Linked DNA regions of Homo sapiens: region 2 is linked to region 1. The links come from fine-mapping of genetic effects on gene expression. A gene starts in region 1. The other region holds a variant in brackets. All regions are shown on one strand. Distances are from middle to middle.

Evidence for each region.
Region 2: its variant is fine-mapped to the expression of USF2 in whole blood (TOPMed, PIP above 0.99).

What each region holds. Positions count from the first base shown.
Region 1 is chr19:35,260,205-35,275,966 of GRCh38, forward strand. USF2 (upstream transcription factor 2, c-fos interacting) reads left to right here and starts at 8,758. Exons shown (of 10, transcript NM_003367.4): 1 at 8,758-8,959; 2 at 9,242-9,288; 3 at 9,377-9,495; 4 at 9,599-9,799; 5 at 10,243-10,393; 6 at 10,514-10,601; 7 at 10,879-10,937. The coding sequence starts at 8,898. LSR (lipolysis stimulated lipoprotein receptor) reads left to right here. Exons shown (of 10, transcript NM_205834.4): 4 at 1,721-1,777; 5 at 2,342-2,488; 6 at 6,155-6,328; 7 at 6,475-6,534; 8 at 6,632-6,763; 9 at 6,905-7,530; 10 at 7,620-7,760. The coding sequence ends at 7,655. LOC105372380 (a long non-coding RNA gene) reads left to right here. Exons shown (of 2, transcript XR_935939.3): 2 at 795-1,198. RefSeq lists enhancers at 1,920-2,618, 4,136-4,185, 10,114-10,853 and silencers at 7,539-7,618, 7,699-7,768, 7,869-8,018, 9,177-9,366, 9,507-9,826.
Region 2 is chr19:35,303,631-35,319,392 of GRCh38, forward strand. MAG (myelin associated glycoprotein) reads left to right here. Exons shown (of 11, transcript NM_002361.4): 8 at 6,244-6,531; 9 at 6,917-7,013; 10 at 8,288-8,387; 11 at 9,660-10,177. The coding sequence ends at 9,824. Among named protein-coding and RNA genes, the nearest start is that of CD22, 18 kb to the right of the region's middle. RefSeq lists enhancers at 1,100-1,987, 7,816-8,317, 8,318-8,817, 15,415-15,594. The variant T/C (reference allele first, on the strand shown) is at 4,667.

The DNA of each region.
Region 1 (15,762 bases):
GGGTCTCCAAGAGCTTTTGTTTGTTTCTGTGGGTTTTATGTCTATCTGTTGCTTAACATATTAGGAATTAAAATGGGGAGATTTTCCTTTTTTTTTTTTTTTTTTGAGATGGAGTCTCGTTCTGTCGCCCAGGCTGGAGTGCAGTGGCTCGATCTCGGCTCACTGCAAGCTTCACCTCCTGGGTTCACGCCATTCTCCTGCCTCAGCCTCCCAGGTAGCTGGGACTACAGGCACCCGCCACCACACCCGGCTAATTTTTTTTGTATTTTTAGTAGAGACTGGGTTTCACCATGTTAGCCAGGATGGTCTCGATCTCCTGACCTCGTGATCCACCCACCTGGGCCTCCCAAAGTGCTGGGATTACAGGCATGAGCCACTGCCCGGCCTTAAAATGGGGAGATTTTTCAAGCCCAAGATACACAAGGAAGACTGGGCAACATGGCAAGACCCTGACTCTACAAAAAATTTTAAAATTAACCAGGCATGGTGGCATGCACCTGTGAGCCCAGCTTCTTGGGAGGCTGAGGCAGGAGTATCGCTTGCACCCAGGAGGTCAAGGCTGCAGTGAGCCGTGACTATGCTACTGCACTCTAGCATGAGTGACAGAGACCCTGGCTCAAGAAACACAAACACACACACACACACACACACGCATATAGTCCATTAGGCATCAGGGCGATGATGGCATCAGGGAGCCTGGGAAACTCTACTGGACATTCATGGGAGAACAAGTGAAAAAGGCAAATAACATCTTAGTGTTATTCTAAAATTTCTTCTTTTGGCCTTGTGGACAGGACCACGCTTTGAGAGCTGTGACTGACATGCCTCTGTCCTGTTGCGAGGGCCTATAGTGCCAAGTGCATGAGCTCTGGGGAGGGCTTCGTGGGTGCAGAGCTGGGCCTGTGGAGGCCCCTCAGACACAACACTGGTGGGGCTCAGAGCTCCAGGGGCACTCGAGGGAAGACAAGAACCGGCTCTGAGATGCGTGAATGTGACAGTGCATGAGTAGAGATGGAGACCTTGTGGGTCCCAGAACCAGGACTGCATATGACTTTCATATGTGGGTATTTTTGCCTTCATGGGTCCCTTCCTGTTTTAAAAAAAATGTGTGATTATGTTGTCACAAAGAGTTTATTCCTGTATATTGTGTTAATTTGTGTTCAGATTTGTAAAGTAAAATTAAACCATTTCAGCCAGGTGTGGTGACACATGCCTGTAGCCCTAGCTACTTACCCCAGAGGCTGAGGTGGGAGGATCGCCTGAGCCCACGAGGTTGAAGCTGCAGTGAGCCATGATCACACCCCTGCACTCCAGACTGGGCGACAGAGCTGAGATCCTATTTCGTGGGCCCTAGGTCCCTGTGCCTGCTGGAACAGGACATCCCTATCACCGTGGTTGGAGCCCTTTGGGGTGCTAAGACCTATGAATGAGGGAAACTTAGGGTGCCCAAGCTGAGGTAGAGCCCTCAGAACCCCCTGGGATTTGTATTGGAGCCCTCGTGGCATAACACAGGTGGATTATGCAATGGGAGTTTCTTACCTATAAGCACCCACATGTGGGCGGGTGGAGGGTAGGAGCCATGCACTAGGGCTTCAGCCCCCAGCCCCTTCCCGCTTCAGGGCACACCTTGCACTTGGCCAGCCTGGAGCTGGGCTTTCGGGGGTGGCACAGCCTGGGCTGGCTCTGGCCAGCATAATCTGTTTCTCTTTTGTCCCTCCAGGGAGGACCTCAGGGGTGGCTGAGCTCTTACCTGGTTTTCAGGCGGGGCCCATAGAAGGTACGGGGGGTGGATCCTGAGTTGGGCTTCTCGGGAGCTCCCATACATCACCTACTGCTTCTGACTCTAGTTAGTATCCCCTTCCCCACTAAACCCTGCTCACTGTGGACCCCTCACTAACCTGGCCTGACTGTGGCTCTGAGGCATCTAGTGGTCTGGCGCTGGGCCTAGGCTAGGCTGGGCTGAGGAGAGCCTGGGGTGCAGGCCAGGGCTCTGTGACTGGCACCTGCGGTGCTCTTGAGGGTGTGGCGTCTGGGCAGCTGGCTCTCTCTTTGGTCTGGGGGCTGCAGTCTGTCTCCCTCTGTGCAGGCTGCCTCGTTTTCTGCCTTGTGTTTTTTGCACCTGGGGGAGGGCCGTAACTGGGGAATGGCCGGGATGGTAGAATGGGGAGTGTGCTGTGCCCAGCCTCTGGCACAAAAAATCCAGCCAGGGCTGCAGGTTCCTTGGTGAGCTTTGCAAATCGTCCCCGACCTCAGTGCTGGCTCCGCACCATGTACCCCTGCTGTGCCGTTAGCCCTGTTCCCTCCCAGGCCTCCGGGCTCAGGGCCTGTTGTCTTTCTGCAGACTGGCTCTTCGTGGTTGTGGTATGCCTGGCTGCCTTCCTCATCTTCCTCCTCCTGGGCATCTGCTGGTGCCAGTGCTGCCCGCACACTTGCTGCTGCTACGTCAGGTGCCCCTGCTGCCCAGACAAGTGCTGCTGCCCCGAGGCCCGTAAGTGTCCCGCTCATGGCCACCCTGGTTTGGGCAACATCCTGCATCCAAGGGAAGGAGGTGGCCATCCACCTGCCCCCAGGACAGTGGCGTTGGTCTGGAGGGTGTGAATTTAGCCAGTGGGGAGAAAGTAGGCTGAGGAGGGTCTGCTGTTTAGATTGTCGTTTACTTCCTCCAACTTTTAGTTTATTTTTATTTATGTTGTTCTTTTCTTTTGTAAGTATAATCCATACACATGGTAAAAATGTCCAACAGTACAAGATACTAGTCACATGGAAGTAAAGCCCTCTAAAAAAACCAAATCTTGGCTAGGCGCAGTGATTACGCCTGTAATCCCAGCACTTTGGGAGGCCAAGACGAGTGGATCACTTGAGGTCAGGAGTTCCAGATCAGCCTGGCCAACATGGTAAAACCCAGTTCTCTACTAAAAATACAAAAATTAGCTGGGCATGGTGGTGATCGCCTGTAATCCCAGCTACTCAGGAGACTGAGGCATGAGAATCGCTTAAACCCAAGAAGTGGAGGTTGCAGTGAGCTGAGATCACGCCACTGCACTCCAGCCTGGGCGACAGAGTGAGACTCTGTCTCAAAAAAAAAAGAAAAAAAAATGTTAAGTGAAAAAGTTAAGAAACCAAACAAGGTTTACAACACTACATGATTTAAGCAAAAAAAATTTTTTTTGTTTTAGAGAAAGGGTCTCATTCTGTCATCCAGGCAGTGCAGTGCGATCATAGCTCTCTGCAGCCTCAAACTCCCGGGTTCAAGCAGTCCTCCCGCCTCAGCCTCTGGAGCAGCTGGGACTGTAGGCACACACCACCATGCCCAGCTAATTTTTTGATTTTTGTTTTTTGTAGAGACGGGGTCTCAGTATGTTGCCCAGCCTGATCTCAAACTCCTGGCCTCAGGTGATCCTCCCAAGTCAGCCTCCCCAAAGTGCTGGGATTACAGGCATGTGCCACCATGCTGGCCAATTTTTAAAAATTTTCTGTAGAGACAGGGTCTTGCTATGTTGCCCAGGCTGGTCTTGAACTCTTGACCTCAAGTGATCCTGCCTCAGGCTCCCAAAGTGATGGGATTACAGGCATGAACTACCACACCTGGCCTTAAACTTAAGCAAATTTTTTTTTTTTTTTGGAGACAGTTTCACTCTGTCGCCCAGGCTGGAGTAAAGTGGCGTGATCTCTGCTCACTGCAACCTCCGCCCCCCGGGTTTAAGCTATTCTCCTGCCTCAGCCTCCCGAGTAGCTGGGATATAGGCGCCTGCCACCACGCCTGACTAATTTTTGTATTTTTAGTAGAGACGGGGTTTTGCCATGTTGGCCAGGCTGGTCTCGAACTCCTGACCTCAGGCAGTCCGCTCCCCCGCACCCCTACCTTGGCCTCCCAAAGTGTTAGGACTACAGGTGTGAGCCACCATGCCTGGCCAAATTTAAGCAAATGTTTGAAAACACATACCCACAGGAATGCTGCACATTTTACCCAGCTACTATGTCTAGGGTCGTATCTAGCACACCAGCATGGCTACTGTGGAGAGCTGGGACTGGATGTGAGATGAGAGCTAAAGGGGAAGTAAGCAAACCAAGCAGGGGAAGGTAAGAGAAGACAGAAGACAGAGAGAGAGGGACCTAACTCTATGAGAGGAGTCAGACATGTGCAATTGAAAAAGACTTGCTCCTGTCTCTCTTCTGTGAATGTTTGTGAATATCCCAACGGGACACTTTCACAGAGGAGCTGATTGACGTGGTCACAGCCATCAGCCTTGGGACACCAGACCACAGTGTGTACACTAAGTGGCACTGATGGACACTTCAGCATCCCTCTAGCTGCTGTCCCGTTTCCCCTCCTCGGGGACCACAGCTGTTGCCAGTCCTTGGTTTCCTTCAGGAGGGTGTCTGGGTAGACCAGCCTGTGTGCACACAGTCCAAGATACATGAACAGTGAAGTGCCAGGCAATCCTTGCAAGCATGGGCAGGTGGAGAGCTGAGGCCTGCTTGACACCTTCCTGCTCAGAAGCCCAGTGAGCAGTTTCCCTCCCTAGGGCTCAGTGTCATCCCCTATAAAATGGGGCTTATGGCAGAGCTCACCACACTGGGTGCATCTGGGGATTTGGCGAGCTCATGTGCACACCATTGAGCATGGGGCCCAACCTATATAAAATATTCTACGTCTGTCAGCTGCTGGGCACTGCCACTATCAGCCTCAGTAGTGACTGAGGGACAGGGCACCAGTCAGAGCCCTGGTGCACACAGAGTGACCCCAGAGAAGCAGCCTTCCCTCTCTGAGTCCTGTTTCCTTCTGTTAGGTCCTGACTTCATGGGTTGTTGTTAGCATTAAGGAAGTCGCTGGCTAATTTTATAGTCATTGAAGTCAGTGGTGTGCAACCTGGTTCCTCAAAGGATCACTTCCCTGAAAAAATTCCACTGCTCCCTGGAGGCTTATGCAGGCCATCCCATCCCCTCCCTCTTGTTGTGTTCAGCTGACAGCTTTTTGCTCAGTGAGTAAGTGTTAGGTCCATTTCACAGATGGGCTGCAACCAAGTTTGCAGTGAACCCACTAAGACCAGAGCTAGGGCCAGGACTAAATGCTGGTCCCAATGCCACATTCCCCTGTCCCCACACCACATTTCCTCCATCCGGAGACCCTGTTACCCCAACCCAGGGCCCCATTAACTCCCTGGCAGAGGCCCTGTTACATCTGCTGCTGCCACAGCCTCCGCCCACCCTTCAGGAGGCAGCAGGTCCCACTGCTGATGATAAAGTTGCAGGCTGCCTGAGCTAATGAAGGGGCTTCCTCTAGGCTGTGCACTTAGTCTTCTGCTTCCAAACCAAATCAGAGGTGAGGCACCCTCTCTGGGCCCATCTCTCTCCTCCATTTTCCTGTTGGGGTCCCAGGGAGGAAGCCACTTGCCTAGGGCCCAGGAATTTTGCAAGCCTCTTGCCCTAGGGAGGAAGGAAGGGAGGAGGATCTTACCTTGAACTGTCAAGCCTAGAGCCTGGTGGGGCAGGCAGAAATGGGTGCAGTCCATGAGTTAGAAACACTAGAGGAGACACTTTGCTGCTTGGCCGGGGCAGGCAAGTTAATTCCCGAGGCTCCTGCCACTGCATCTCAATCTGGAAGGTGACCAGGTGGGCAGGACCCACGTCTCCCAGATGACTCATTTTTTCTAGAACAGGGGCTTGGCTGCCAAAGAGGATACTTGATTTCGGCTTGTGGGGACAGTGGTGGACCCAGCATCTGGGCTTTATATAAAGGGCAGCTTTGTTGCCCTGTAAACACACAGACCATGGGTGGCCACTTCTTCCAGTAAGTTAGCTGGGGAGTTGGAAGTTTAGGTAAAACCTTTTGATTGACAAATGTTGGCGAATTACCATGCTGTTAAATGAAACATTGTTCTGCCACCCTGGGGCTGTGGGTGCCTGCGTGCACCCTCTGAAAAATCACACAGGAAGTGGGGTGGGGTCTCTGTGAAGCTGGTGTCCCCCAGCCTCAGGGATGCTGCAGAAATGGAATGAGGACCAACAGGGACTCAGATGTCCAAGGAAGCTCTACAGCGGAGAGGACGGCTTGGGAAGGAGGTCCAGGCCCAGGTCCCTCCGGAACCCAATGGGTATGGGGCAGCCTGGCTCCTGCCTCATCCCCCTTCTCCTGTTGATTGTGTCCTCACAGTGTATGCCGCCGGCAAAGCAGCCACCTCAGGTGTTCCCAGCATTTATGCCCCCAGCACCTATGCCCACCTGTCTCCCGCCAAGACCCCACCCCCACCAGCTATGATTCCCATGGGCCCTGCCTACAACGGGTACCCTGGAGGATACCCTGGAGACGTTGACAGGAGTAGCTCAGGTGAGGCCGGGGGAAGCAGGAACAGCTGGTGGGAGTGTGCTGGGCATCTGGACACTGAGGGGCAGGGGCTGGAAGGAAGAGTGTCTTGGGAGCCGAGGAGGGGCTCTGCTCCTGGTGCGCGGCCACTGACAGCCACTCTCCCCCAGCTGGTGGCCAAGGCTCCTATGTACCCCTGCTTCGGGACACGGACAGCAGTGTGGCCTCTGGTGAGAATCCATCGTCCCGAAGTTGGATGTGCCTGTAAGGGAGAGGGGTGGGCCAGGATCCATCCTCCCAAACCGACCACCACCCCCCTGTCCCTAGAAGTCCGCAGTGGCTACAGGATTCAGGCCAGCCAGCAGGACGACTCCATGCGGGTCCTGTACTACATGGAGAAGGAGCTGGCCAACTTCGACCCTTCTCGACCTGGCCCCCCCAGTGGCCGTGTGGAGCGGGGTAAGCAGGAGCCTTGGGGTCTGAGGGCTTTTAAGGTGGGGGGGTGAAACATGTCTCCCTGATACCTGCCGCAGGGACTCTTGGTGCAAACCCTGGACCCCGGGCTCCTCCAGCAGTCAGTGACACCCCCCTTCCCTGCAGCCATGAGTGAAGTCACCTCCCTCCACGAGGACGACTGGCGATCTCGGCCTTCCCGGGGCCCTGCCCTCACCCCGATCCGGGATGAGGAGTGGGGTGGCCACTCCCCCCGGAGTCCCAGGGGATGGGACCAGGAGCCCGCCAGGGAGCAGGCAGGCGGGGGCTGGCGGGCCAGGCGGCCCCGGGCCCGCTCCGTGGACGCCCTGGACGACCTCACCCCGCCGAGCACCGCCGAGTCAGGGAGCAGGTCTCCCACGAGTAATGGTGGGAGAAGCCGGGCCTACATGCCCCCGCGGAGCCGCAGCCGGGACGACCTCTATGACCAAGACGACTCGAGGGACTTCCCACGCTCCCGGGACCCCCACTACGACGACTTCAGGTCTCGGGAGCGCCCTCCTGCCGACCCCAGGTCCCACCACCACCGTACCCGGGACCCTCGGGACAACGGCTCCAGGTCCGGGGACCTCCCCTATGATGGGCGGCTACTGGAGGAGGCTGTGAGGAAGAAGGGGTCGGAGGAGAGGAGGAGACCCCACAAGGAGGAGGAGGAAGAGGCCTACTACCCGCCCGCGCCGCCCCCGTACTCGGAGACCGACTCGCAGGCGTCCCGAGAGCGCAGGCTCAAGAAGGTGAGGGCCGCCCTCCCTGGCGTCCAGACCGTCCCTGGGCCCCCAGCCGGTCCCCGCGGCTCATACCCTTCTTTCTTTCTCCCTTGCAGAACTTGGCCCTGAGTCGGGAAAGTTTAGTCGTCTGATCTGACGTTTTCTACGTAGCTTTTGTATTTTTTTTTTTAATTTGAAGGAACACTGATGAAGCCCTGCCATACCCCTCCCGAGTCTAATAAAACGTATAATCACAAGCTCTGGAGAGAACCATTTGTTCGGCCGCGCGGGGCGGGGGACCGGGGCTGCTCCCGTATGCGTCTGTAAAGCGCCGCGTCCCGGGGGCACCGGAGTCCGGGGCCGGGAGGAAGAGACCCAGCCTGGCCCGGCCCGCGCCCGCGCCGCCGGCCGGAGAACGTGCCCCGCGCAGCCGCCGCCCGCCTGCGTGCGCGCCCCGGCCCCGCCCAGGCGTGCGCATGCGCCCCGGCCCTCCGCCTTCGCGCACCGCAGGCTGGCCGTCCGGGACGCGCGCGCGCTCCTCTCCCCTTCCAGCCCATCCCCCCCAGCCCCCCACCGACCTACTTTACTGTCTCCAAACTCGGGCAGCCCACCTGGCCCCCGACGACCCCAGCCCCTGCACCGGGTACCCCGACGTTCCATCCAGACCCGCGTTTCACCAGGGCGGCGCGCGGCGACCTCGCGCCCCGCGGAGCCCCGGGCTCGCGCGCGCCCGCCCGCCCCCGGAGACAGACCAGCGCGCGCGCCCCGGGCCGCCTCCCCCCAGCGCGCGTCCGCCCCGGGGCTCGCGCCGCCGCCGCCGCCGCCGCCGCGCGCGCGCAGCTCAAGTAAAGGAGGAAAAAAAAAAGGGGGAAAAATAGAAAGCGGCGGCGGCTGCAGCAGCGATCCGCCGCCGGACTGGGCCAAGCCGGGCGGCGGCCGCGCGAGCCGGCGATCCAGGGCACTGGCGGCGGCCAGCCAGGGCGGGCCGTGTTCAAAAAAAAAAGTCGCGGCGGCGGCGGCTGCTCAGGGAAGGAGGCCTGAGGGCCGCGTGCAGCGGGCGGGCAGCTGGGTGGGCTGGGGGCGGCCGCGCGGCGTCCCGGAGCCTCGGGCCGCCCGGAGCCGGCGGGCGGGCGGAGGCGGAGGCGGCGGCGGCTGCAGCGGCTGCAGGAGCGGCGGCGGCTGCGGCGGCGGCGGCGGCATCTCCTCCTCACATGACCCCACTGTTTGTCCCCGTGATCAGCGCGAGCGGCTCCCGTATCTCCTCCGTCCCCTCCTGCCGCGCGGCGTGAGCGCCGGGCTCGGGGCCCCCCCGGCCGCCCGCCCCCTCCCCTCCCTCCCTCCCCTCCCCTCCCCTCCCCCCCGGGCCCCGCGCCCCCCCCGCCCCCGCCCCCCCCATGGACATGCTGGACCCGGGTCTGGATCCCGCTGCCTCGGCCACCGCTGCTGCCGCCGCCAGGTAAGATCCCCGGCCCGGCCGTGCCCCCGCGCCCCGGCCCCGGCCCCGGCCCCGCGGCCTGCAGGCCGGGGCCGCCATGATCCCGAGCGGCCGCGGGCCCGGCTCAAAATGGAGGCCGCCGGCGCGGGGGGGACCTGGCGCCTCCCGCCCCCGGCCCCCGGCCTCGGCGGCGCCCCCGGCCTCAGGCGCGGCCGGGTGGGACTGGGGCCCTGCAGCTGGGCGCGGGGGCGGGGGCGCGGGCGCGGGCCGCGCTGACCCTGCTCCCTCCTGTGCCCCTGGCAGCCACGACAAGGGACCCGAGGCGGAGGAGGGCGTCGAGCTGCAGGAAGGTGAGTGCTTGCCGGGCCGGCCGCGCCCGGGGAGGGCTGGGGGCGCTCGGCGCGGCCCTGACCGTGCCCCGACCCTCCTCGGCCCCAGGCGGGGACGGCCCAGGAGCGGAGGAGCAGACAGCGGTGGCCATCACCAGCGTCCAGCAGGCGGCGTTCGGCGACCACAACATCCAGTACCAGTTCCGCACAGAGACAAATGGAGGACAGGTGAGCGGCGGGCCGCGAGGGCGAACGGGCGGGCGGGCGGGCGCGCCGGGAAGGCTCGGACCTGGCCCCAGCGCCGGCCTCGCCGCTCTGCCGCCCCCTGCAGGTGACATACCGCGTAGTCCAGGTGACTGATGGTCAGCTGGACGGCCAGGGCGACACAGCTGGCGCCGTCAGCGTCGTGTCCACCGCTGCCTTCGCGGGGGGGCAGCAGGCTGTGACCCAGGTGGGTGTGGACGGGGCAGCCCAGCGCCCGGGCCCCGCCGCTGCCTCTGTGCCCCCAGGTCCTGCAGCGCCCTTCCCGCTGGTAGGTGCCCTGCCACCCCTGGGTGGGGGGGGGAGGGAGTGGAGAGGGGACACTGGCTCTGCTCTTGGGGAGCCCCGGGGGTGGGGCAGGTGTCGCCCAGCGGATGCTGCCTTCAGGCCTCAGGCTGCATGGGGCCAGATCCCTGTTGTGCACCGTGAAACCTGGGGACAGTGCTCTTGGAATTTTTTTTTCCCGCAAAATGGGAATGATGTGTCTTAAGAGGAAAGTTTCTTAGAGTGCGAAACGGATTTGCTCAGCAAGTGATCGCTGACCTCCCGCCATGTTCCAGGGCTGTTTGAAACACAGGACAGAATGCTACACGCAGAAGGAGTCCCCACTCCTGTTAATTGCAGAGAATGCAGTAAACCCCAAGCACAGCAATGAGGGGACGGGATGGAGGAACAGAGAAAGCTAAGGGTAGCCTCTGCCCTCCTACTCCCCAGGCTGTGATCCAAAATCCCTTCAGCAATGGTGGCAGTCCGGCGGCCGAGGCTGTCAGCGGGGAGGCACGATTTGCCTATTTCCCAGCGTCCAGTGTGGGAGATACTACGGCTGTGTCCGTACAGACCACAGACCAGAGCTTGCAGGCTGGAGGTGAGGAGTAGAAGTCAGATTGGCAGGTGGGGGAGGCAACGGGCCCAGCAGGGAGGGAAGCCCCCCCAGCCAGTTCTGACTTCACCCTGCCTTGCCACTAACCCCCCACTCTCCCTGCAGGCCAGTTCTACGTCATGATGACGCCCCAGGATGTGCTTCAGACAGGAACACAGAGGACGATCGCCCCCCGGACACACCCTTACTCTCCGTATGTGCAGGGGACACCTGGAGGGCCTGGTGTTGAAATGGAAGGAAGAGGGGTTTCTGGAGTAGAAGCTGGGCAGTTAGCATGAAGTGGGCACATGGTGTAATGTTTTTTTTCTTTGCCTGTTTCTGCTGCTCTAGTGCACATAAAGTATCATGTCTTTTGTTTTTGCAGATGGATTTACCTTGCAAAGATAATTTTCAAATCTAATACTTAGCAGATGCTTGGGCAAACAGCTCTGCGATAATACATGCCCCCTTTTTTTTTCCTCCTCTTGTAGAAAAATTGATGGAACCAGAACACCCCGAGATGAGAGGAGAAGAGCCCAGCACAACGAAGGTGAGGACAAGGTGTGGCTCCGGGTCCCCCTGACCACCACCCTCACAGGCTCAGCCAGCCCTGGAGTGTGGAGTGACAGAGAGAGAAGCCACTCCTGGGCAGGCCACAAGTGCTCCAGAGGGCTTTGCTGGACGCTGTAAAGGTAGAAAGTGAGCAACGAGGGGAGAGTACAGTGTCAGAAGTAGAGGGACAGGGAGTGTGAATTGGAACTGGCCATTTGTTGACCCGGCTGGTGATCTTGAATTCATGGCCCACATCTAAGATGGTGGACTTCACACTCCCATACGGATTGCCTGCCCCACTTGAAAAATGGGGCTGACCGGGCTCACGTGGGCTGACCTTTCCACGTGGCAGCTGTCATGCTCACATCCCGCACTCCCATGCCTGCCTGGCCTCCAGAAGTAGGTCTGTTCCCCCAGGGAGCACATCTGAGGGAGAAACTGCATGAAGTTCTGCCTCTGGCTACCTAAGGCCGGAGCATCCTGCCCTTTCCAGAAACACCAGGTCTCACCTCAGGTCATTTGGCCTTCAGCACTGTCCCGCCCCGCCTGTCAGTAGCCACTGCAGTGGGCACAGCACTGTGCAAGTGCCAGGAGAGTGCTTACACCCAAACAACCATCATTCAACAAATATTTACTGCCCGTGGGTTCTGGGCTGAGCGGCACAGGCCCTGTGCCAGGTCTGGAGTCTGGCCTGGAGCGTCAGGGAGGCTCAAAGGCCTGAGGGCTTATGTCTCATGGGTCTCATGGGACATTGATGGGGGGTGGGCTGGGGTGACGCTTCCCTAGGGAGAGGGGAGTGTGGGTCAGGTTACTTTGTGGGGTGCTGGTTTGGTTGTGGGAGAAGTTCCATTTAGAATGCCTCAGGAGGGAAGATCGGGAAGGCCTCGAATGCCCGAGTGAGGGGCTGAATGCTGAGTCCTAAAGGTGGTGATGGGACTGGGGTCTGTGGCCCAGGTAGTTGTGTTCTGAGCAGCTCCTCCCTGAGTTCAGGCGTTCATTCAGCGCGTGCATACTACGACCAGCCCCCCTTTTGCGTCCTCAGATATGGCAATGCAGCAGATGATAGGACAGACAAGGTCTCAGCTCTCTGTGCGCGTTCTGGTGGGAGAGATGGGAGTCACACAGCCGCATCAGGCAGTGCAGGCAGTCACAGGCAGGAGAGGAAAGCTGGGGAAGAAGGTGGCGGGTGATGGCGGCATGGTAGTGTGCTCTGAAGGGCTCTTCGAGAGGTGACATTGAAGCAGATCCCTGAAGCGACCTGAGGGAAGGGGCCTGTTGAGAACCTCAGGAGAGTCCCGGGCAGAGGGAAGAGCTAGAACACAGGCCAGGCCCTGAGCCAGGGCCGCCATGGTGTGTCTGCAGAAGAGCAGAATTCAGGAAAGGAAAGAGGAAGTTGGCGCAGTGGAGGGGGCTGCCCAGGCCAGATGGTGGAGGACCTTGGAAGAAGTCCCCAGTGTGGCTGTCTGGGCTCCTGTGGTTTTATTCCAGGGTGATGAGAAGCCAGCAGAGGGGTTTGGGTTGTGGAGGCTGTTGGCAAGAGTGGTGGGAAGGGGCTGGGAGGTAGGAGACCATACGACTGTCAGGCCTGAGACAGGGCAGGGGTTGGGGGAAATGTGGGGAGGACTCCAAGGCTGGAGAATAAGGGTTTCGTGCTGAACTCCCCTCCATGCTTGGAAGGGAAGGGGTGCATCTGAGCTTGGTTTTGAGATGCAGTGAGTTTGAGGGGCCCCCAGAGCAGCCCCAGCCCCACGACTTACCTGTGGTGGGGCGTCAGGGTGGTTCTTAATCTCCGTACCTGTCTTCCCTCTGTGAAATGGTGGAAGCACAGCCGCCCCGGGCACCTGGTGGGGATGCAGTGAGTCTTGGTGGCCACACAGTAAGGCGAAGAGAGGACTCAGAACCCTCCCACCCCACTCTCACCCCCGCCTCTCCCTTAGTTAATCTGACTCCAGGCAGCCTTGAAACTTTCTCACCCTGTGAAGCAGTCTTCATCACCTGCCCACTTCTCCAGCTCCGTCCTGTCTCCGCTTTCCTGACTTGCAGAGCATCTGCCCCAATCTGCTCATCCTCCCAGTACCCTCAGCCATCTGGCTCATGGCTCTACCAAAACAGCTCCACTTCCGGTCACCCGTGGTGACCCCATTGCCACATCCACTGGCCTCCTTTGCTGTCTGGGCTCCAAGCATCTGATGCTGCCTGTTTCCCTCTGTTCCTTTCTGGAATCTTCCTTTCTCCTCCATCCTCTCTGATTCTCCTGTGATCTTTGCCTTTCCTACCCCACTGTTAACAGTGAAATTTCCAGGGCTGTCCCAGTTCCAAGTGAGTAGATGGGGGTGCCGGGGAATCTGTGTTTTCCATCAGCTCTTCAGGTGATTTGTCATAGTGGACAAGCTTGAGAAACTGCTTTGGCTGCGAGTGTTTCTTTTTTTTTGAGAAGGGGGTCTCACTCTGTCACCCAGGCTGGAGTACAGTGGCACAATCACAGCTCACTGCAGCCTTGACCTCCCAGGCTCAAGCGATCCTCACACCTCAGGCTTCTGAGTGGCTGGGACCACAGGCAGGCGTCATCACATGGGGTAATTTTTTTTTATCTGTAGAGTGGAGGTCTTGCTATGCTGCCCAGGCTCGTCTTGAACTTCTGGCCTCAGGCAGTCCTCCGGCCTCGGCTACAGGCCTGAGCTGCCACACCCAGTCTTGCTGGTGTTTCATAAGGTCCGGCCCCTCCCGTCGGCCTCAGGTGTATGACTTGTGAGGCCCAGCGATGGGCTCGGAAGCTCTTGGTCAGTATCCCCCAAACTCTGTTCCCCCTTGTAGGTGTTCCTCTTTTTTCTTTGCTGCAGAAGAGTGTGTGACTCACAAAAAGTTGAGGACTGTTCCTTGATGTCCTCCCAGGCTTCGCCCACCACCTGGCTCCTGGTAATGCAAGGAACTGTGTTTCCATCCATTCCCTTCCTTTCACTGCAACTCCAGCCCCACGTTTTGAACTACCTATTCGAGATTTCTGTCTCTGGACATCCCTGTAATGCCTCAAACTCAACTCGCCCAAAAGAGAATGTGCCATCTCCCGTCTCCAAAGGCTTTCATGCAACCTTCTTCTTTGCAGAGCAGCAAAAGCTACCCCTGTCACAGCTGCCCAAGCCAGAAACTAAGACCAGAGCCGCTTTCAACTCTGCCCTCTTCTTCCCTTATGGCCACAAACCCCAAGTTTCTCTTCTGTGGTGATTTCAGATCCGCTTCTCTCACTTCTTTTTCCCTCCTTCCCACCACTTCTTGGTACTGCAGGAGCTTATCCCAGAGTCACAGACTCAAATGCCTGCAGGGGCCTGAGGGAGGGAGGTGCACTTGGCATCTCAGGAAGGGGTGTGTGGCTGGGTGTGGTGGCTCCCGCCCGGAATCCCAGCACTTTTGGGATTACATTTTGGCCAAGACGGACGGATCACTTGAGCCCAGGAGTTTGAGACCATCCTAGGCAATGTGACAAAACCCTGTCTCTACCAAAAAAATTAAAAATTAGCCAGGCCTGGTGGTACATGCCTGTAACAGTCCCAGCTACTTGGGAACCTGTGGTGGGAAGATGGCTTGAGTCCGGGAGACAGAGGTTGCAGTGAGCTGAGATTACCCTCCAGCCTGAGCAACAGACCCAGACCTTGTGTCAGAAAAAGATAGGAAAGGTTGTGGGGGGCCCCCAGTGATCTGGGGCATGTGTGCGCTGCCTGAAGGGTGGCCCTTGCCCAGTGCCTTCCCCTTGCTGCCCTGTCAGAATCTAGGGCCACTGTTGCCAGAAACTCTGAGAAGCTAGAAATCGAGACTTATGTGAAATCTGATTTTTAGGTGCCAGATTAGATTGCTTTTTCCGTTTCATTGATTTCTACTCTTAATGTTACTAATTCATGCTTCTACTCACTTGGTTTTTTGTTTGTTTGTTGTTTTGTTTTGAGATGGAATCTCGCTCTGTCACAGTGGCGCAATCTCAGCTTACTACAACCTCTGCCTCCCCGGTTCAAGTGATTCTCCTGCCTCAGTCTCCCAAGTAGCTGGGACTACAGGTGCCCGCTGCCACACCTAGCTAGTTTTTGTATTTTTGGTAGAGACGGGGTTTCACCATGTTGGCCAGGCTGGTCTCGAACTCCTGGCCTCAGGTTATCCACCTGCCTCAGCCTCCCAAAGTGCTGGGATTACAGGAGTGAGCCACTGCACCCGGCCCCTTCTACTCACTTTGGATTCAATTTGCTAGGTTTCATGCTTTAGCTTCCCTGGCACACCCCAACCCCAGCTTTTTAAGGTAATTCTTTTTTTTTTTTTTTTTCCAATTTTCTACTAAAATCTTTATTTTACAGGATTAATGTTTCACAGCAGGGATTGAGATGATTCTTAACCTTTCTCTTTGCTTAACAACATTTAGAGTTGCCAGTTCACTCCAGCATCACTTTAGCTACATCCCACTGGGATATGTTGTTTTTGTTATCATTCAGTTTAAAGTGTTTTCCAATTTTCCTTGTGATTTCTTCTTTGACCTTTCTGTTATTTGGAGGCAGGTTGCTTAATTTCCAAATATTTGTGGGTTTTTCAGATATCTTTTTGTTATTGATTTTTAATTTAGTTCTGTTATGGTCAGAGAACATACTCTGTATGATTTCAGTTCCTTGAAATTCGATGAGACTTACCCGACGGGCCCGAATGTGTCCTAGCTTGGCGGAAGCTTCTGGGGCATTGACGAGGACAGGTGTCTGCTGCTGTCAGGCAGAATGTCCCCCCAGGTCAGTGAGGTCAGGCTGGTTGAGTGTTCAGGCTTTCTATTCTGATTTTTGTTGTTGTTGTTTACT
Region 2 (15,762 bases), 43 kb after region 1:
TGGAGGATAGGGCTGAGAAGACACCACGCTTATGAACAGGTACAGAATAGCTGGAGAGATGACACAGATGCACATAAAAAGCTACTGTCTTGGAAATGAAACTCACCATTGCACCGCTGGCCAGCGCCTCTCATCTCCTCACTATGGACTGTGCCACCATCTCCCACCACCCCTACCCCCACAGCCATCACTCCAGGTTGTAGCAGCCAAGTCACAGTTTTGACTCCCCTTCCTTAAGCAATTCCCTCTGGAATATCGCCTTCCTGTTTCCATTTCCCCTGCTTCCTCCCAAGTTCCTGTTGGCTTCTAGCACTCCTCCCCAAATTTCACCTCTCTGGTCTTCACGATGCCCACAATGGCCCCCACCACACAAGTTTGCCAGAAGGTTCGATGACATTCAACATGCAAAGAATTCAAAGCAGTGTCTGCTACACAGTACATGCTCTGTGCTGTGTACATGGCGACAATCAGTACATGGCAGATACAGGTTAGTCCTCGGGGGCAACCTCTCGTGGCAAAGCCGTCCCTCTCCTGCTGACCTATAATCTTCAGGCACTTTCCCTCCTGGTTCTGTTCCCTAGCGGGGCTGATGTGATCCTGGCGCGGGGCTGCGTGGTCCCCTGCTCCCTCCAACTGTGCGTGCTATCCTGGGCCAGCTTCCCCCTCTGGTTGTCCCCTGATCCCTGTTACACCCCACACCAGTGATTCTTCAGTTTAAGAGTCAGAGAGAGGAGCCGATGGGAGTACTTGAACAAGCCTGCAGCACCAACTCACATACATTTTCCGGTGGGGTGCAGATCTCTCCTTTATAGTAAGAGCAGCAGGCAGCAAATGCGCGTTAGGGGCCTGCCCTGGGCCAGACCTTGAATCCTCTACAGCTGTTTTCTGGTTCAGTTCTTATTTTTATTATTATTATTATTTTTTTTTTGAGACTGAGTCTCGCTCTGTCACCCAGGCCAGAGTGCAGTGGCACGATCTTGGCTCACTGCAACCTCTGCCTCCCAGATTCAAGCGATTCTCCTGCCTCAGCCTCCCAACTAGCTGGGATTACAGGCATGCGTCACCATGCCCAGCTAATTTTTTATTTTTAGTAGAGACGGGGTTTCTCCATGTTGCCCAGGCTGTTCTCCAACTCCTAGTCTCAAGTGATCCACCCGCCTCGGCCTCCCAAAGTGCTGGGATTACAGGTGTGAGCCACCATGCCCAGCCTATCTGGCTCATTTTCAATTCTAGGGTCACCCTGTGAAACAGGGGTGTGTTATAATTATCCCCTTTACCAAGGAGAAAACTCAAGGGCGGAATTCCCTGAGGCCAGGCAGCTATAAAAGTGGGTCCGAGCCCGATAATTCCAGACTCCTGTCTGCCCCAGCTGTTAAACCTCTGGCTGCCTCACCTCCCTCACAGCTCTTAGCACTCTAGGACTCAATCCGGCTTCTCTTGAAAACGAACACGCAGGCAGATGTGGAGTGTGCAGGCCTCACCTGCTAGACTTGAGGGGAGCAGTGGCCCTGTCCCCTGCCCCACCTGCCAGCTCCCTACTCTTCACCCAGGCCTGTGTCAAAGTGCTTGCCCTTGGAGAGTGCGACCCTCAGGCCCCCTCCCTCTCCACACAGTCAATGTTCCCTGGCACCAGGTCTCCAATGTTCACTGACAGTGGTGGTGACCCTTGAGCAGGGCCTTCTGTCTTACCTGCCAACCCCAGAGCCCTGAACGGCACGGGGCATGCAGGAAGTGTGCAACCTTACCGAGTGCCTGAGATGTCTAGGGAACTAGCTTGAGTACGTTGTACGCATTGACCTATTTTGTTCTTACAACCATGTGATTGAGGGGAGGGTACCATTCTTCAACCCAGTTTAATACAAGGAAACAGAAGTTTGACTGGCATCCAGTCCCAACAGGGCTGAACAGACCTGGGCTAGAATCCCAGCTCTGTCCCCATCCTCCTGCCTGAGCTCAGGCGAGTGACTTCAGCTTTGCAACCCTTAGCAAGGGTTCATAACAGTATCTTACCACAAAGATGGCTGTGAGAACTAAGAGAATTAGGCTGGGCGTGGTGGCCCACACCTGTAGTCCCAGCACTTTGGGAGGCTGAGACAGTTGGATCACTTGAGGCCAGGAGTTCGAGACCAGCCTGACCAACCTGACAAAACCCCATCTCTACTAAAAATACAAAAATTAGCCAGGCGTGATGGCGCACACCTGCAGTTCCAGCTACTCAGGAGGCTGAGGCAGGAGAATCGCTTGAGCCCGGGGGGTGGAGGTTGCAGTGAGCTGAGATGGAGCCAGTGCACTCCAGCCTGGATGACAGAGCAAGACTGTCCCAGCCCCCCACTCCAGCCTGGATGACAGAGCAAGACTGTCCCACCCCCCCACTCCAGCCTGGATGACAGAGCAAGACTGTCCCATCCCCCCACTCCAGCCTGGATGACAGAGCAAGACTGTCCCACCCCCCTACTCCAGCCTGGATGACAGAGCAAGACTGTCCCATCCCCCCACTCCAGCCTGGATGACAGAGCAAGACTGTCCCACCCCCACACTCCAGCCTGGATGACAGAGCAAGACTGTCCCACCCCCCCACTCCCCCACAAAAAAGAAGAACTAAGAGAACAATACTGAGTGTTCATAGTGCTACATACTCTGTGGATATTGGATGTCATCATCTTTCTCACTGATTTTTCCTTTGGACTCCAGGTTAAATATTTGTTGTGTGTTTTGCTGCTGAGGTTTTGCTCATGTGACCTCTCTGCGGGAATGGTTCTGTCTATCCACCCATGAGTACTTGGGTGGGATGTTACGTATTTTTAATTTTAATTTTTTATTTTTTTGAGACAGGGTCTTGCTCTGTTGCCCAGGCTGGAATGCAGTGGTTTGATCATCGCTCACTGCAGCCTCAACCTCCTGGGCTCAACTGATTCTCACACTTCAGCCTCCTGAGTAGCTGGGACTACAGGCACACATCACCATGCCCAGTTAATGTTTTAATTTTTTGTAGAGATGGGGTCTTGCTCTGTTGCCCAGGCTGGTCTCAAACTCCTGGGCTCAAGTGATCCTCCTGCCTTGGCCTCCCAAAGTGCTGGAATGACAGGTGTGAGCCACTGCACCCGGCTGGGATGTTAAGTGTTTACAACACACTTGCGCGCCTATCTTCGGAGTCCCGTAGCCCCTTGTGAGTTACTGACTGTAACCCCCTGGTTTGCACAGATGAGAACTCCATCCTAGAGGCCCAGGAGCCTGAGTGGCCTCACCCAGCCAGTAGATGGCAGAGCTGGGATTCAAGCCAAATCCATCCCACCACAAACTCCTCATTCTTTGTACCTTTGTCTTACAGGTTTGTCTAGAGTCCCATAACAGTTTCCGCAGCTTCACAGGTTGTCTGAAAAGATACTAAGCACGTGCACCGGCAGGGTGTCGGCGTTCCGCCGACATCCAGGTCGAACACTTTGTCACCAGAGCACCAGTGGGGCTGTCTTGAGTGGAAGTGCTTTGAAAAAGTTTTATGTCTGTCGGTTCAGGTTCGCTGTTATTAATGTACTCCGTGGCGTGTTAGCTGGTTAACGCTATAGCAAGCATATTGCAGCTCTGCCCGAACAGGACTTTTTATTCAGTAGACTTAGAGATGTTTGCACAGAGGTTCCCATTCCTGCCGTGAATCCGTGTGCCCGTGTGACTCCCAGGTCCACCACCGTTACCGGCACATTCTTTTTGCTAGCAATTGAAAATAGGTGGGGTAGGTGAGCCAAGGGTCTCTTGCCTGTGTGTAAGTGGGTTTTGGTGAGAACTCACTGAGAACCAGTGCTCAGTCTAGAGCAAGCCAAGGAGGGTGCTGGACTCTCAGGCCAAGAAAGAGAACACAGTTTAAAAAGCAGCATTCTGTGCTGTAATACAATTGCGTATTTTGGTACAAAAATTAGCCAGGCATGGTGGCACGCACGTGTAGTCCCAGCTACTCAAGAGGCTGAGGCAGGACAATCACTTGAACCTGGGAGGCAGAGGTTGCAGTGAGCAGAGATCGTGCCACTGCACTCCAGCCTGGGCGACAGAGAGACTCCGTCTCAAAAATCATAGTAATAACAATAATAATAATAATAATTTCCTGTTTTGGAAAATGAAAGAAAAAACCTACCAGTACTATTTTTGTAATCCAGTGGCAGCAAAGCAAAGCTCAACCAAGTGACTTTGGGTGGAGGGTGGTGTTTGGTGCTAGTGGCAGGAGGGAATCTCATGGGTGAGGAAGGGCCGGGGTTCAAGGCGGCTTTAGGGGAGGAAGTGGGGGGCATCTGCAGCGCAGACTGAAAGGAAGGAGCACAGCCTGGAAGCCAGAAAGGAGGGGATAGTCTAAGCCTGTGTGAGCCCCAAGGGTCTGGGGAGGCCGGGGGCTGGGAGAGTTCCATGGTTCCTCCCTTCTACGTGTGGGGCCCAGAGTGGAGAAGGAGCAAGCCCCTGTCTTGATGGAAACAGGAGGCCCCTTATGTAAGTGTGTGATGCAGGGAGGGTGAGTGCTGGGGAGGAGAACTGAGTGAGGCAGGGAGTGAATGATACGTGGAGCGAGGTGCAGCTTCCCTGGGTGGTCAGAGAAGGAGACGCCGCATGGGTAGAGGCCAGTTTGGAGCGAGGGAGGGCGTTCCACAGGCAACTGATGGAAGTGTTCCAAGTTGAGGGAGAAACG[T/C]ACAGACCCTGGAGTGGGAGAAAGCTCCACGATTTTCAGACACAGCAAGGAACCGGTGTGGCTGGAAAGGACTAAGCCAGGGGGAGAGAAGGAGAGAGTGTGTGGTCAGGCAGGGCCTGAGGGGCCTTGTAGATGAAAGACTTTGTATTTTGGGCTGGGCACAGTGGCTTGCGCCTTATAATCCCAGCACTTTGGGAGGCCAAGGCAGGAGGATTGCTTGAGCTCAGGAGTTCAAGACCAGCATGGGGAACATAGCAAGACCCTGTCTCTACAAAAACAAACAAAAACCCTCCAGTAACTATCATGAGTATGACAGATTTACCGTCCTCTGCAATTCTGAACATAAAGCTTTAAAATCAAAAGGCTTTTTGCAAATTTGGCACCACCCTGATTTGACAGCAAAATCTCGCCTAAAGAACACAAGGCTGTTTGTAATCTATACTGATTTCATTTAGGGTGAATATTCGTACTTTTTGCTGTATACATTACATTGAACTATGTGAAATTTTTTCTGCATGTCAAAAATGGTCAAATGTGGCTGGGCGCAGTGGCTTATGCCTGTAATCCCAGCACTTTGGGAGGCTGAGGCGGGAGGATCACTAGAGGCCAAGAGTGCAAATGAGCTATAGTACTGCCACTGCACTTCAGCCTGGGCGACAGGGCCAGACCCTGTCTCTAAACGATAAAAAATAAAGGATTTGTATTTTAGGTGAACCACGGAGCAACAGAAGGAGGGTTTTGAGCAGAGAGTGCCATGATCTGATTTATGTATTACAAGGTGAATGAGGTTAGAGAGAGTGTAAGAGCCAGGGCCCAGGAGAAACGGCCCGTCCCTGTGACATAGTGCTCTGTCCAGGCTGAAGCTGAGGCTAGAGTCGCCTCAAAAGTGGCACCAGAAGAATTGCCCCAAGAGAGCACCCCAAACCACCCCGAAATGAGGCCACTTGGGATTCCAAAGAGAGAGGCACTAAACCACCAGGTGATCATCAGTCCAAAGCATTTGGGAGGGGAACTTGCACAGTGCTACGGCGAGAGAAAGGGAGGGTCTACCCAGACACGTCCGTGAGGGTCAGGGTATGGGTTTACATGAGGGTTTAAGGAATTTGGCCCAGGGCTGGGGCTGGTTTCTTTCATTCTTTCATTTTTGTTGTTGTTGTTGTTTGGGGTTTTTTTGAGACAGCGTCTCATTCTGTAACCTCTCGTACTCCTGACCTCAAGTGATCCACTCACTCTTCGGCCTCGCAAAGTGCTAGGATTACAGCAGTGAGCCACCATGCCCGGCCTCTTTCAGTGTTTTGAGCAACAACCTAAACACCTTTATCAGTGCCTGGGAATGTTCAAGGCCCCAGGCGTGGGTTAGTGAAGCTTGCAGTGAAAACAGGCAGCCGGCGGGGTCGTAGTGAGGTCAAGGCGCTCTCAGTCAGGACAGAGAAAAAAGGAGGGGAAATTGGAGGGCCCTACAGGAAGCTACCGCCCCCATCCTTGGCCACACTGGCCTTGCCTTGAGCCAAGGAGTCTCCGGGGCCGGGCCTCGCGTTGGCTCCGGGCCACCCTCAGACCTGATTTTGCCCCTGCAGTCGCCCCTGTGCTCCTCCTGGAGTCCCACTGCGCGGCAGCCCGAGACACGGTGCAGTGCCTGTGCGTGGTGAAGTCCAACCCGGAGCCGTCCGTGGCCTTTGAGCTGCCATCGCGCAATGTGACCGTGAACGAGAGCGAGCGGGAGTTCGTGTACTCGGAGCGCAGCGGCCTCGTGCTCACCAGCATCCTCACGCTGCGGGGGCAGGCCCAGGCCCCGCCCCGCGTCATCTGCACCGCGAGGAACCTCTATGGCGCCAAGAGCCTGGAGCTGCCCTTCCAGGGAGCCCGTGAGTGGCGTGGACTTGGGGTGGGAGCCACAGGAGGGAGCGGGCACGTCTTAGATCCAAGCTCCCAAGGCTGACCAACAGCCACAGAGCATGGGCTATGCAGATTGACAGAAAGGTCAAATTCTCCCTTTCCGGTTGGAGAGGAGAAGCCGCCCTGAGTTTGCCCCGAGTTTGCTAGGACCTTTGAGGCATGAGCCCCTCCCCAGGGCCCTCTAGCATGAAAGGGATTGCCCTGGCACGAGGAGGCTCCGTGCCAATCAGTCAGTGCAAGGATGCCCCGGCTGTGTGACTACATTGACTGTCATCCCAGCATGTCTCCAAAGTTCTCAGGTGTCGTCACCACCACCCATAGCCCTAAGGGCGCCTGGGTCTTTTCTGTCCTCAGATCGACTGATGTGGGCCAAGATCGGGCCTGTGGGCGCCGTGGTCGCCTTTGCCATCCTGATTGCCATCGTCTGCTACATTACCCAGACACGCAGGAAGTGAGTGCCAGCTGGGGCTGATCTGGGGATGGGAGTCTCCAAAAAGGGGACCTGGTGGGAGATGGAGGCCCAGAGTGGGTGGGGGAAGGCAGCACCATAAGTGTAGAGAAGGCAGATTCTGTTCTGGGAATGTTCAGCTGGACAGAGGAGAGAGGGTTCCTGTTAATTCCAGCCCCTGCTGGTCAGGGGCACACCAGGGCCTGGGCTGAGCCCTTTACACACATCATTTGAGACCTGTTTGCCCACATTCTATTTTGACAGCCTCCCTATCTCTAGGAACTCTCCCCTACACACTCCAGTGTGGTGGGGAAAGCCCAGGTACCCCACTGCAGCCACAGCAGCAGGTCCACTTGACGCCAGAAGCCCCAAAGATTACACACATCTGGGGCAAAAAAAAAATAGGCCTTGGCCGGGCGCGTTGACTCACGCCTGTTATCCCGCACTTTAGGAGGCCAAGGAGGAAGGATTGCTTGAGGCCAGGAATCTGACACCAGCCTGGGCAACATAGCAAGACCACATCTCTAAAAAAAATTTTTTTTTAATTAGCCAGGCATGGTGGCACACACTGTAGTCCCAGCTACTTGGGAGGCTGAGGTGGAACGATTCTTGAGCTCAGGAATTAGAGGCCAGCCTGGGCAACATAGGGAGACCCCATCTACAAAAAAACAAAAAAATTAGCTACTAGTGGCACGTGCCTGTTGTCCCAGCTACTCGGGAGGCTGAGGAGGGAAGATCGCTTGAGCCTGGGAGGTTGAGGCTGTAGTGAGCTATGATTTCACCACTGTACTCCAGCCTAGGTGACAAAGAGAGACCCTGTCTCTAAAAACAAACAAACAGACAGACAGACAGACAGAAAGCCTCTCCAGCCCCAAACCATACCCACCTGGCCCAACTCAGCTGCAGCCGTGTTTCTTTCTTGTGGCACACACACATCAGCTGTCCTGAGAAATAAATTAACCCCTCTGCTCCACATCCTGGTGGCAAGAGGGGCAGAAAGACCCAGAGCCTATGAGGGGAACCTGGAGAATCCAGGTGGGGGTCCTGAAAAACGGCAGAGCTCAGGGGCCAGGTGGCTCGTCCCCAGCCGGGCAGGGGCCACAGAGGTGGGAAGGATGGGCTGTGTGGGTAGGAGAGGCTGGTGGTTCTGAAAGGGCTGCTTGCCACATCTTAGAGATGGGTGGGAGAACTCTGAGGTCCCCTGAGCCAAACTCCTAAAACACGTGGGGGTGCAGAAAGGGAGGGCAGAGAGAGGTCTGACGAGTCCTGCCCTGCAGAAAGAACGTGACAGAGAGCCCCAGCTTCTCGGCAGGGGACAACCCTCCCGTCCTGTTCAGCAGCGACTTCCGCATCTCTGGGGCACCAGAGAAGTACGAGGTAAGGACCAGGCTCCAGGCTGGCCTGGGAACCTGGATGCCAGGGACACTGAAGGCCTGGGAAAGGCCTGTGAGGCCAAGGGGCAGGGGAGTGGGAGCGGCCTCTCACAGGAGGAGAGGAAGGACATTCCAGGGCTGGGTTGGACCTGGAGGCTGGGGAGGAGGTGCCCAGGCCGAAGCTGTGTAGGGGGCGATGGGACGTGGGGCCTAAGGGCCCCCTCCCCTCCCTGCCTGTGTCTGTGACTGCATTTCCTTCTCCAATAGTCCAAAGAGGTTTCTACCCTGGAATCTCACTGAGTGCCCCAGGAGGTAGGTTCCGGGGGCCTCAGTGTGCCCTCCTCTGGGCCCTCCTTGGGCCCTGGGGTTGGCGTGCATGTCCGTGTGTCCCTGTCAGGCGTCAAGGTGGTCTCTGGTGATGTCCGGGCCTGCCCGGCAGTGCTGGCCTTGTCTAGTCTGTCCTGTTGCAGCTCCCTTCTGTCTGTGGCCACCGTCCTGTGTGTCCAAATTCCTGTGGCTAGGGGGTGGAGGGAGGGGTGGGAAGCGTGGGGGGAACCCACATGTCACCTGCAGGACCTCCCAGATTGAGGGCGGACCCATGCAGGACCCATGGGGGGGCACGTACCAAACCAGGTATTTCCAGGAATTTGGAAAGATGGGGTCCTGACTAGGTGGTTTTCACCCAAAAAGGTATTAGGGGTTACATTGTGTGCCCTCAAAACTCCTATGTTGAAAGCTTCCTGGACGGGGGCAGTGGCTCACACCTGTAATCCCACAACTTTGGGAATCTGAGGCGGATGGATCACTTGAGGTCAGGAGTTTGAGACCAGCCTGGCCAACATGGTGAAACCCTGTCTCTACTAAAAATACAAAAAATTAGCCAGGCGTGTTGGCAGGTGCCTGTAATCCCAGCTACTTGGGAGGCTGAGGCAGGAGAATTGCTGGAACCCAGGAAGTGGAGGCTGCAGTGAGCAAAGATCGAGCCATTGCAATCCAGCCTGGGTCTCAAAGAAAAAGAAGAAGAAGAAGCAGCTTCCTGGAGAAACTGAATTTGTAGGCAAATTTCAAGTTCAGCAATGATTAACACTGGCAGAAGCTCCAGAGTGGGACCTGGTGACCGCAGGGCTCGCTGGGCCTGCGGTCCTTGAGAAAGGAGGTTCTCGCAGGGATTTATTTGGGACTGAACTCAGGAGCTCTGAGGGTGCAAACGCTCTGTCCTCTGCATTGGGAAAAGGCAGGGAGCAGGACCCTGCTAATGGGCGGTTTCCCCTCTTAGAGCGAGAGGCGCCTGGGATCTGAGAGGAGGCTGCTGGGCCTTCGGGGTGAGCCCCCAGAGCTGGACCTGAGCTATTCTCACTCGGACCTGGGGAAACGGCCCACCAAGGACAGCTACACGCTGACGGAGGAGCTAGCTGAGTATGCTGAAATCCGGGTCAAGTGAAGGAGCTGGGGGCAGCCTGCGTGGCTGACCCCCCTCAGGACCCTCGCTGGCCCCCACTGGCTGTGGGCTCCCTTCCTCCCAAAAGTATCGGGGGCTGGGGCAGGAGGGGAGTGAGGCAGGTGACAGTGAGGTCCTGGGGGCCTGACCTCCCCCTCCTTCCCAGCTGCCCCTCCCTGCCAGCACCCCCACGCCCTCATTACGGCTCCTCTCTAACCTCCTTTACCCTCATCTGTCTGGAGGGGAGCTCTGTCTGTCCGTGTTATTTATTGCTACTTCCTGCCTGGTCTCCTGCCCCCACACCTGGCCCTGGGGCCTGTACAAAAGGGACATGAAATAAATGCCCCAAAGCCAAATGCCAGTCTAGATCCTGATGCTTTCTGACCCGCCTTTGGGCAGCCTGCCATCCCACCGTCTACAGAACGATGACAGAATTTCTCCTTGCCCTCGGCTGAGCCTGGTATGCAGGCAAGGGCCCAGGGATTTTAGCCTTGAACCCAGGGCCAGTGGCCACTAAGTTGCTCCCACTCTGAGCTGGTAGCTGCGAGCTGGGTCTGGTTTGACTTATGGATGATTTCACATAAAAATCCTCATGCTGGTTTTTGCCGCAGTCAGATCAGCTGACAGCACCAGGCTTGCACTTGTACGTGGACATGACTTGCTGAAAGGGAGGGTCCTGTGCACTGGCCGCAGTCCCCACCACTCCCTATTGTCCCACACCTGGCCGGCTTCCTGCACTGAGATTACCTCCTGGTCCCTGCAGCTTGGAGTGCGAGCCACAGATCTAGGTCTCACCAGCCCGTGTTGGTTTCACCACCATCTCTCACATTCATGCTGCAATTTGCAGCGTCAGCCTTTATACATCACTACATTCAGTTCCAGAAACATTAATTAAGCACCAGCTGTATACTGAGCCCTTTCTAGAGGCTCAGGCTGTCCTGAGAAGGGTCTCCTAGGACAGCTCTGTGACGATGAGAACACTGAGACTTAGAGAAGTTAGGTGATTTTCCCAGGGTCCCAGAGCTCGGAAACGGTGTGTCCAGGCCATGGGGTTGATGCTTCTGATTCAAATGCACTCTTTCTTTTCTTTTCCCTTCCTCCCTCTCTCTCTCTCTCTCTCTTTTTTTTGATGGAGTCTGTCTCTGTCACCCAGGCTGGAGTGCAGTGGTGCAATCTCAGCTCACTGCAACCTCCGCCTCCTGGGTTCAAGTGATTCTCCTGCCTCAGCCTCCCAAGTAGCTGAGATCACAGGCACTCGCCACCACGCCCGGCTAATTTTTGTATCAAATGCACTTTTTCTATAATACCTGTCAGGAAGTTAAAAAGGGCCAGAGTGTCTGGTATAAATGGGATTGATAACTAACAGTTGTTGAACGCTTTCTATGATTCTACCCAGTTTGCATTAATTAATCTCCATTAACCTCATTTACCTTCCCTAATAACTATGACAATGGTTCTCAAAGTGTGGTCCCTAGGCAGCAGCATCAGCAGCACCCAGGAACTTGCTAAAAAGGCAAATTTTCAGCCCCCACCCTAGACTTCAGGAATCAAAAACCCTGAGGTGGGGCCCAGGAATCTGTGTTTTGAGAAGTCCTTGGTGGATTCTGATGCACGTGCACGTTTGAGAACAAGCAGCTGAAGCATGGAGAAGTTACATCAGTTCTGTGGTCCCCAATTGTTAGCAGTGGAGCCCAGATTTGAGCCCCGACCACTGGCTTCGGAGGCCACACTCTGACGCTGTGCTACACGGCCATCTTGGTGAGAACCAACAGCTGCTCACAGAGCCCGGGTGCTGGAGGAGCAGTAAGGTTAAGCTGTGGGCTGCGGGCAGTGAGGGCAGGGTTTCCTAGACGGCAGCTCTCCCTGATTTTTTTTTGTTTTTTGTTTTTTTTGTTTATTTTTTGAGATGGAGTCTCACTCTGTCATCCAGTCTGGAATGCAGTGGCACGATCTTGGCTCACTGCAACCTCTGCTTCCCAGGTTCAAGCACTTCTTCTGCCTCAGCCTCCCAAGTAGCTGGGACTACAGGCGTGTGCCACCACACCCAGCTAATTTTTGTATTTTTAGTAGAGACGGGGTTTCACCATTGTTGGCCAGGCTGGTCTCGAACTCCTGACCTCAGGTGATGCGCCCAACCCACCCTCCCAAAGTGCTGGGATTACAGGCATGAGCCCCTGTGCCTGGTCTCTCCCTGCATTTTGAAGAAGGCAGAGGACACAGCACAGAGACCAAAATAAAGGCCTAGAGGCAGGAATAAACAAACCAGGTCGGGAGGGGAGGTGACATGGGGCTGCTTGGCTGGGATGGGAAGTCCACATGCAGGAGGAAAGGAGACGTGTGGGGGGCCGGGCTGTGGGAAGGGAAACCCTCTGTGGGGCCTGTCCAAGCTGGGAGGGTGCATGCCCTTTCTTCACGGAGCTCACAGTCTTGCAGGGACAAGGACATGAAAGAATCTCATGCACAATATCAAACTGCAACTGTGACACCGGCTTCCAAGGAGAAGCTCAGAGTTTTTACAGCAGGGGTCCCCAGTGCTATACTGCACACCCAGATACTGGTCTGTGGCCTGTTAGGGACTGGGCTGCACAGCAGGAGGCGAGCAGCCAGCGAGCAAGCATGACCACCTGAGTCCTGCCTCCTGTCAGATCAGCAGCGGCTTTAGATTCTCATAGCAGCACGATTCTTATCGTGAACTGTGCACGCAAAGGATCTAGGTTGCACACTCACAGATGGTGCCTGATGAACTGTCACTGTCTCCCATCACCCCCGGATGGGAACGTCTAGTTGCAGGGAAACAAGCTCAGGGCTCCCACTGATTCTACATGATGGTGAGTTGTATACTTACTTCATTATATATCACAATGTAATAATAATAGAAATAAAGTGCACAATAAATGTAATGTGCTTGAATCATCCCCAGCTCCCTCCCCACTCTCAGGCCCATGGAAAAATTGTCTTCCATGAAACCAATCCCTGGTGCCAAAAAGGTTGGGGACCGCTGTGTGACTTAAGGTCACAGGGGGCAGGGGAGGCTTCCCTATGGAAGGAAACTCACACATGTGTGAAGGCCCCAAGTGGGAACATGTTTAGCAAAATTCCAGGAGCTGAAGCAAGGCCAGAGAGGCATCGGATGGGGCTGGGGATACACAGGGGCCTCTCAGCAGCCGGGAGGGAAGCCTCTTCCAGATCCCCTGCATACATGCTCACCAGCCCTGCCCTGACACACCTGTCCCCTGACGACAGACTCTGGCTCCAGCAGGTCTGGCCTGGGAGGACTTCACCCAGAGGAGCAAAACATTGTCAATAACCAGGGATCGGGGAGTAACTCACGCTGCCCAAAGTGCAGCTTGAGGGCCCTGGGAGCCACTGTGACGCTACTGTGTATGCTTCATTTAGTATGCACCGGAACAACAGGAAACCAGAATGCCGCACCAGCTTCGGATGAGGCTAAGTCAAAATAAATAAATAAGAAAGAAATCAATCAACTGAACTGATTTTAAAAATGTATTAAATAAACATGTTGCAGGTGGCTCCTGAAGGTTGTAGGCAAACCTCTAAAGTTTGGGAAACAATGAGGGAATTTGACACAAAGACCATCCTTAGGAGGGACCGGCACTCAGCCATGGCGAACGTGTAGGACCGAGCCAGGTGCGGTGGCTCATGCCTGTAATCCCAGCACTTTGGGAGGCTGAGGCTGGTGGATGGCTTCAGCCCAGGAGTTTGAGACCAGCCTCAGCAACATAGCGAGACCCTGTCTCTACAAAAAATACAAAAATTAGGCAGGTATGGTGGCATGCGCCTGTAGTCCTACCTACTCGGGAGGCTGAGGTGGGAGGGATAGTTTGAGCCCAGGAAATGGAGTTTGCAGTGAGCCGAGATTGAACCATTGCACTCCAGCCTCAGCAACAGAGTGAGACCCTGTCTCAAAAAACGAACAAACAAACCAGTAGGACCTGAACTCAAGTTCACTCTCTCAGACTTTCCCCACCCAGCTCCTGGACCCCACCAGAATTCAACACATGCTCACTGAGCACCTCTGTGTGCCAGGCCTATGCTGGGCCCCAGGGTCACAGCAGTGCCCAAAAAGAATCACTCTGTGACCTCCCAGAGCTGACATTCTGCAGAAGAGACAGACAACGATCAGAAAGACAAGCAAACACATGACCGCACATCTGACAGTGAAGGAACTGCAGAGGGGTGCAAGGTCAGGCTGTGCTGGGTCAGGCTGCCATTTCAGAAAGAGAAGTCATTTGACTTGAGACCAGAAGGAAGTAAGGGAGGGAGCTCTGTGGGTTCCTGGGGAATGTGGGTCCAGGGAAGGCCAAAATCGAGTGCAAAGGCCCCTGGCGAGAATGTACTTGTTACCTTCATGGAACAAGAAGGAAAGAAGCATGCTTGAGTGGAGTGATGGAGCCAGAGTGGTTGCCCAAGGAAGCTCGATTACACAGGGCCTTGTAGGCCACAGGCAGGACTGGGGCTTGTTTGTTTGTTTCTTTGTTTGTTTGTTTTGAGGCAGAGTATCGCTCTGTTGCCCAAGGAAGCTCGATTACACAGGGCCTTGTAGGCCACAGGCAGGACTGGGGCTTGTTTGTTTGTTTCTTTGTTTGTTTGTTTTGAGGCAGAGTCTCACTCTGTTGCCCATGCTGGAGTGCAGTGGCACAATCTCAGCTCACTGCAGCCTCTGCCTCCCGGGTTCAAGCAATTTTCCTGCCTCAGCCTCCTGAGTAGCTGGGATTACAAGCATGTACCACCACGCCTGTCTAATTTTTATATTTTTAGTAGAGACGGGGTTTCACCATGTTGACCAGGTTGCTCTTAAACTTCTGACCTCAGGTGATCCACCCGCCTCAGCCTCCCAAAGTGCTGGGAATACAGGCGTGAGCCATCCCGCCCAGCAATGGAATTTAATCCTAGGTTTTTTTTTTTTTTTTTTTTTTGAGATGGAGTCTCGCTCTGTCACCAAGGCTAGAGTGCAGTGGCATGATCTCGGCTCATTACAACCTCCGCCTCCCGAGTTCAGGTGATTCTCCTGCCTCAGCCTCCCAAGTAGCTGGGATTACAGGCACGCACCACCATGCCCAACTAATTTTTAATAGACACGGAGTTTCACCATGTTGGCCGGGCTGGTCTCGAACTGCTGACCTCAAGTTATCTGCCTGCCTCTGCCTGCCAAAGTGCTGGGATTACAAGTGTGAACCACTGTGCCCAGCCAGGACTTGGGCTTTCAAAGAGCGCGTTGAGAAGCCGCTGGAGAAGTGAGTTCGGAGGGGTGTGATGGCAGGCTTGAGGCTTCAGAGGCCCACTGGCAGCTGCGTGGACAGTGAGCACAGGCTATCAGTGGAGGCAGGGACAGGGCTTGGGAGGCCCTGGCCATTGTCCAAGAGAGAGGAAGTGGAGATGGGGAGAGGGGTGGGGTCAGGACCCATTTTGGAGGAGGAAGTGGTGAGACTCACTTGAAGAGTCAAAGGTGACTCCAGCAGCTTCCTTAAGAGGTTGAAGAAAGCAGGAGGGGCAGGTTCAGTGGAGAACGCAAGAGTGATCTACTCCGGCCGAGTTCAGGCCCAGGGAGGCCCTCAGGGACAGGGAAGGCAGATGGCACCCCCTCCCTGGGAAATGCCAAGCCGAGGAAGAGTCAGAACACATGACACAGTGACTCAGAGAGATGGGGGCAGACGCTGAGATGAGGGTTGGCCAGGCAGGAAGGAAGGTGAGAAGGTCTCATGGCCTCACGTGCCAGTAGGGCTGGGCCACCACGTGTGGGAGGGAGGACACCCAGGCACCAGGCCATGGTCATGACACGGGTCTCTTTGTCCCTCCCGGTCTGCCAACCTCCTGAGTCACTCCTGACGGAGATGACTGATCCATCCCTGGCCCGCCTCCCACCCTGTCCCTGGGACAGTGCCTGGGGCAGGCAGCTCCATTATCCTCCTTGATGAAAGAG